Linked DNA regions of Homo sapiens: region 2 is linked to region 1. Evidence: fine-mapped expression QTL. A gene starts in region 1. The other region holds a variant in brackets. All regions are shown on one strand. Distances are between the middles of the regions. Region 1 holds the start of PLA2G4B (phospholipase A2 group IVB). Region 2 has its middle 20 kb from the start of MGA.

The links. PIP is the estimated chance that this variant, and not a neighbour inherited with it, causes the effect. A credible set is the group of variants that fine-mapping cannot tell apart.
Region 2: its variant is the best candidate, but not a certain one, in a credible set for the expression of PLA2G4B in subcutaneous fat (FUSION, PIP 0.59).

What each region holds. Positions count from the first base shown.
Region 1 is chr15:41,837,233-41,840,136 of GRCh38, forward strand. It overlaps PLA2G4B (phospholipase A2 group IVB), which reads left to right and starts at 1,615. Exons shown (of 20, transcript NM_001114633.2): 1 at 1,615-1,690. The coding sequence starts at 1,682. All of the region lies in intron 6 of JMJD7-PLA2G4B (JMJD7-PLA2G4B readthrough), which reads left to right. It overlaps JMJD7 (jumonji domain containing 7), which reads left to right. Exons shown (of 8, transcript NM_001114632.2): 8 at 1-349.
Region 2 is chr15:41,638,946-41,641,849 of GRCh38, forward strand. It overlaps a transcript of MGA not described here. Among named protein-coding and RNA genes, the nearest start is that of MGA, 20 kb to the right of the region's middle. The variant G/A (reference allele first, on the strand shown) is at 1,387.

The DNA.
Region 1 (2,904 bases):
AGAGCCTGGAGTGTGCATGCTGGCTGCTGGCCCCGGGTCCAGCATGGCTTGAGATCAGCTTTGGAGGATCTTGGAATGTGGTCATAAGGACTCAAGGTGCCAGGCAGGTCTGGGTGAGGGTTCTCAGGAAGTTGCCACACAGGTGAGCAGAGTGGGGATCAGGTGCAGCGGCACCTCTCCCCAGCGCTGTGATGTTGGGCGAGTCACTGCGTCTCGGGCATTGGTGTCCTGTCAGTAAAGAGATAATAATGGCTGTACCTCGCGGGGCTGTTGTGGGCTTGGAGATGATGTCTATGAGGACCAGCATGGAGCTGGCACACAGGACATGTTGAATAAAAGGTAGCTGTGAGTCGTATGTCCTTTTTTTTTTTTTTTTAAGATGGGGTCTCGCTCTGTCACCCAGGCTGGAGTGCAGTGGTGTGATGTCAGCTCACTGCAAGCTCCGCCTCCCAGGTTCACACTATTCTGCCTCAGCCTCCCAAGTAGCTGGGACTACAGGTGCGTGCCACCATGCCCGGCTAATTTTTTTGTATTTTTAGTAGAGACGGGGTTTCACCGTGTTAGCCAGTATGGTCTTGATCTCCTGACCTCGTGATCCACCTGCCTCGGCCTCCCAAAAGTGCTGGGATTACAGGTGTGAGCTGCTGCGCCTGGCTTATGAGTCGTATGTTCTGATCCTCCCTCTTGAAGTTGCCTTCTGTGGTCTAAGGAGGGCCTGAAGGTTCAGGTAAAAACTTCAGGGTGACCTTCACTGGGGGTGAGGGCTGGATCCCAGCCTGGGCCCAAAGAGCCGTCAGCTGCCCAAGTCCCGCTGTCCATGAGAGTCACCGCAGCCCCTCCCTGGGACAAGCAAGCAGACCTGAGTCTTGTAGCTCTCTGGTCCGGACCTCTTTGCCCAGGACCTTGAGAGCTATTCCTAGCTCTCCTATGGTTACTGTCCTCCCCCAGTTCAGGGGCAGCAGGTGGGACCTGGTGCCCTGGGGATAACCCCTGTTTCTCCCATAACAGGCACAGGCAGGAAGGGACGGAAGCCCCCGCCTCTCCTGGGGCTGTCCCTCTGAGGAAAGAGTTGGTCTCCACACGCTGACCCCCCCACAAACCATGCCCTGGAGGCAGAAGAACCCCCTGCCCCTGAGTGCCAACCCACAGGCCTCATCCCTGGCCACTCAGCACCTAGCTTTGAAGGGCTGTTTTATGTGACAGCCACTCCCCTGCCTGTCGTGAGGGGGCCCGGGTGTTCATCTCAGATTGATGGATCCCTGCCATCAAGACTGGGCATTCCTGTCCAACAGGTGCCAGAGTTGCGAAAGGCCTGTGACAGGGAACTCCACTCTTCCCTTGGCTGCTGTTCTGGGACTCACCCCTGCTTTCCTTCTGCTCAGCCCCTGGCAGCAAGCTCTCCAGGCTGGGATTGCAGGGCTGGGTGGGGCAGGCCCAGCTGGTAAAGGCTGGCGAGTGCCACAGAGGTATCAGGAGCTCTAGTATAGGCTTAGGGTGCCTCATTTCCTGGACAGGTGGCTGGTTCAGGAGTGGGTGTGGAGCTTAGGTGGAGCAGAGGCGGCGGGTAGGAGGGACTTGGGACCAATTGGGACATCACATCCCTGGCTCTGGGTTAGAAAGCTGACAGTCCTTGATCCTGTGGCCACTGCCCCATCATTCCTGCTCCTGAGGACTCAGTCTCATGGCTGTGGTAAGGCCTGGCAGGGCCCTGGGTCCCTACTGGGACCCCTGGTCTCTACCTGGGGCCTAGTTAATATGTTTCTTATGGGAGCTGTGGTCTTCTCCAGGGGTAGGGAGGGGAGTTTATTGACCACAAGACCAGGGTAGCGGGCAGAAGCCAGGGGAGGAGGAGGCTTGGGGATGAGGGATCCGTCCTGAGTGTTTTCTGTCCTGGGAACGGGCTCCTGGCAGAGCTCCCTGGCACCACAGATTTGGGCCCTGGAGACTCAGAGGCTCCCAGCTGCCGCCCTGAGGCCCTGGAAGCAAGTGGCTCCTCCATGCTCCTCTGACTCAGTTGCCTGGAGTGTGAGGGCCCTGGGCTGACCCTGGTGGATGAGGCCCTCCAGCACTGCCCTGGACCTGGTTGCTCCCTGGACTTGACCTGTTAGGGTCCTTGTGGAGGCAGGTGGAAGGCCGAAAGGAAGCAGTTGGCACAGGCTTCCCTGGTCCCGGTGCGCCTGCCAGGCTGCATTCCCAGAACCAGGGGCATGGGTTTGGAGGGAGCTACCGGGGGACCATCTTCAGCCTGACCTGGCAGGACCTGGAGGACATGACAGCCTGTGAGGGGTCTGAGCTAGGAGCCGCCTCCCCTGCCCAGGAGAGAGCCCATTTCCAGGATGCTCTTCTGACCAGGGTGGAGGGAGGGTACGAGAGCAGCTCAGCCTGGGGCCCAAGGCCCTGATGTGCTACTTCCCCTCCCTCGATAGCTTATGTCCCCTGCCACCCAAGACCAGCCGGAAAGCTGCTTAGCTGGGGTGTGGGCTGGGGATGTGGGGTGGAGAGCCTAAAGGATACTAGCCCGAGAAGGTGGAAGCAGGTCTGTGTGAGGCATAAATCTGGAGCCAGCCTGCCCGGGCTCCAACCCCAATTGTGGACCTCAGGCAAGTGACTGCTTCTCTGTGCCTCAGTTTCCTTGTGGAGTGGGCCATCGTAAATAGTATCTGTGCATAAGGTGGTTGTGCGATAAATGAGTTAATGTATGCAAAGCCCTTGGCCCAGAGCCGGCGCAGAGCATTGTGTAAGTGCTGGCAGGCGTCATGATGGAGATATCATGTCTCCTCTTGTTGATTCAGGATTCTGATGAGATGGAGGATGGGCCTGGGGTTCAGGATTAGGCCTTGAGGCACTGCTCCAGCCTCCTTTGTGGCCCCTGTCACCCTTGGCTTCATCGGCCCGTAGCAGGTC
Region 2 (2,904 bases), 200 kb before region 1:
AGTGATCCACCTGTCTTGGCCTCCCAAAGTGCTAGGATTACAGGTGTGAGCCACCACACCTGACCTTTTTTTGATGGGGGTCTCACTGTGTTGCCCAGGCTGGACTTGAACTCCAGGTCTCAAGTGATCTCACATCTCAGCCCTTTCAGCATGAGAATTTGTCCTTCTCTTCCTGGTTGGGGATCATAATGTCTTCTTTTTTTCCCCTCTTGTTATACTATTCTTGTCCCATCCCACTTCTGACTTCACCCTTTTCTTTTGTGTGTTTTTCCTTGTCTTATGGTTTCTTCTCTTGTGTGGCTCTACTATTTTATGGCCCCTTCTCTGGCAATGTTTTAGTTTCTATTCTTGATTCCAGCTCCGTGAGTCTTTTCCTCCCACTTTCCATTCAGTTGAGAGGGAATAAGAGAGTACATTTTTACATTTAAGTCAGAGAATGTTTGTCATTCCTATTTAACTAAACTCTCATAGCACTCTTTCCTCACAAGCTGATGGTTAATTCATAGAACCTTTAGGTCTGTTGGATCCCCCTATCTAATTAGCTCGGCACAGGAGTCAGGAGCATGTAGTTTTTTTTTTTTAAATTAATTAATTTATTTTTATTATTTTTATTTTTTTAGATGGAGTCTCGCTCTGTCGTCCAGGCTGGAGTGCAGTGGCGCAATCTCGGCTCACTGCAAGCACCGTCTCCTAGGTTCACACCATTCCCCTGCCTCAGCCACTAGAGTAGCTGGGACTACAGGCACCTGCCACCACGCCCAGCTAATTTTTTTTTTGTATTGTTAGTAGAGACGGGGTTTCACCGTGTTAGCCAGGATGGTCTCGATCTCCTGACCTCGTGATCTGCCTGCCTTGGCCTCCCAAAGTGCTGGGATTACAGGCGTGAGCCACCGTGCCTGGCCCCAGGAGCATGTGGTTTTTATGTGGAGTTAGGAGTTGAAGGTGAAATAAGAGGTTCCTTAATCTGCAAGGCATTGTTGGTAGAGCTTTTGCCTTGAGAGATGACTCTGAGTGTGCTGACCAATCTGTCAAGGATGATGAGAGCTAGATTACTGTGCACCAAAGGAGAATGACAGTATCCTTTGGTGGTTTAGAGGAAGGCCAGTGTTTACACAGCAAGGGCATCAAGGCAGGCTTCATGAAAATACTCGACTTTAAGAATGAGGATGATTTCAATAGGAGGAGATTAGGGAGAATGATGCTGGTGAATTTATGGACTACGAAGGCAGAGAGAAGATGCTAAAGCAGCGTAATTATAAATGCAAAGGTTCAGATAAAAAAACCCGGGGAGCATATTTAGGAAATAAGGAGTAGTTGAGTATACAGCAGCAGGAAGAAGGAAAGCTGGGTCCAGAGTATTGAGGCCCTTATATGCTAAGCTAAGGA[G/A]TTGAGGTGCAACTTGGTGCTCATTGTTTGTCTTAGAGTTCTCACTAACCTTAAAGTTACTGAGAATTTACAAAGGAGTTGTTGAGCCTAGAGAAGCGATACAGTTTCTTATCGTTGATGTAAGATTGTACATCATTTGAACCTTAGTTTTGTGACATTAGCGTCTAACATTTATTTGTAGGTATTTCCTCTTAGTTTTTTTTTTTGAGATGGAATCTCGCTCTGTCGCCCAGGCTGGAATACAATGGTGCGATCTCGGCTCTCTGCAATGTCTGCCTCCCGGTTCAAGCGATTCTCCTGCCTCAGCCTCCCAAGTAGCTGGGATTACAGGCATACGCCACCACATCCAGCTAATTTTTGTATTTTTAGTAGAGACGGGGTTTTGCCATGTAAGTTAGGCTGGTCTCAAACTCCTGACCTCACGATCTGCCCACCTCGGCCTCCCAAAGTGCTGGGATTATAGGCGTGAGCCACTGCGCCTGCCCTCCTCTTAGTTTTTAAAGTTTTGAGATAAAATTAATGTACTATAAAATTTACCCATTTAAAGTGTATAATTCAGTGGTTTTTAGTGTATTCATAGTAATGCATCCATCACCACAATTTTAGAACATTTCAGCATCCCAGAAAGCAACACTATACTCATTAGCAGTCATTCCCTATTTCTCCCCCAGTCTTCCCAGGCCTAGGTGACTATCAGTCTACTTTCTATCTCTATGGATTGATCTGTTTTGGAACATTTCATATAAATGGAATCATACAAAATGAGGTCCTTTGTGATCAGACTCTTTAGCATGTTTTCAAAGTTCATCCATGTTGTAGCATGTATCCATACTTAATTCATTTTTATGGCTGAATAATATTTCATTGTGTTGATACAGCACATTTTGTTTATCCATTCTTCAGTTGATGAACATTTGGGTTATTTTCATTTTTTGGCTACTATGAATAATGCTTTTGTGACCATTAATGGACTTTTTTTGTATAAACTTATGTTTTTATTTTTCTTGGGTATGTACGTAATAGTGGAATGATTGGGTCATATGGTATCTCCATGCTTAACTTCTCGAGAAACTGCCAGTGTTCTCCAGAGTACCTATACTATTTTATATTTTCACCAACAGAAAATGAGAGTTCCAATTTTTCTACATCCTAACACTTTTTTTTTTTTTTTTTTTTTGAGAAGGAGTCTTGCTCTGTTGCCAGGCTGGAGTGCAGTGGCGTAATCTTAGCTCACTGCAACCTCTGCTTCCTGGGTTCAAGCAATTCTCCTGCCTCAGCCTCCCGAGTAGCTGGGACTATAGGTGCGCGCCACCACGCCCAGCTAATTTTTGTATTTTTAGTAGTGACGTGGTTTCACCATATTGGCCAGGATGGTCTCGATCTCTTGACCTCGTGATCTGCCTGCTTTGGCCTCCCAAAGTGTTGGGATTACAGGCATGAGCCACCGTGTCCGGCCTACACTTTTTTTGTTCTATTTTGTTTTGAGACTGGTCTCACTCTGTTGCCCAGGCTGGTGTG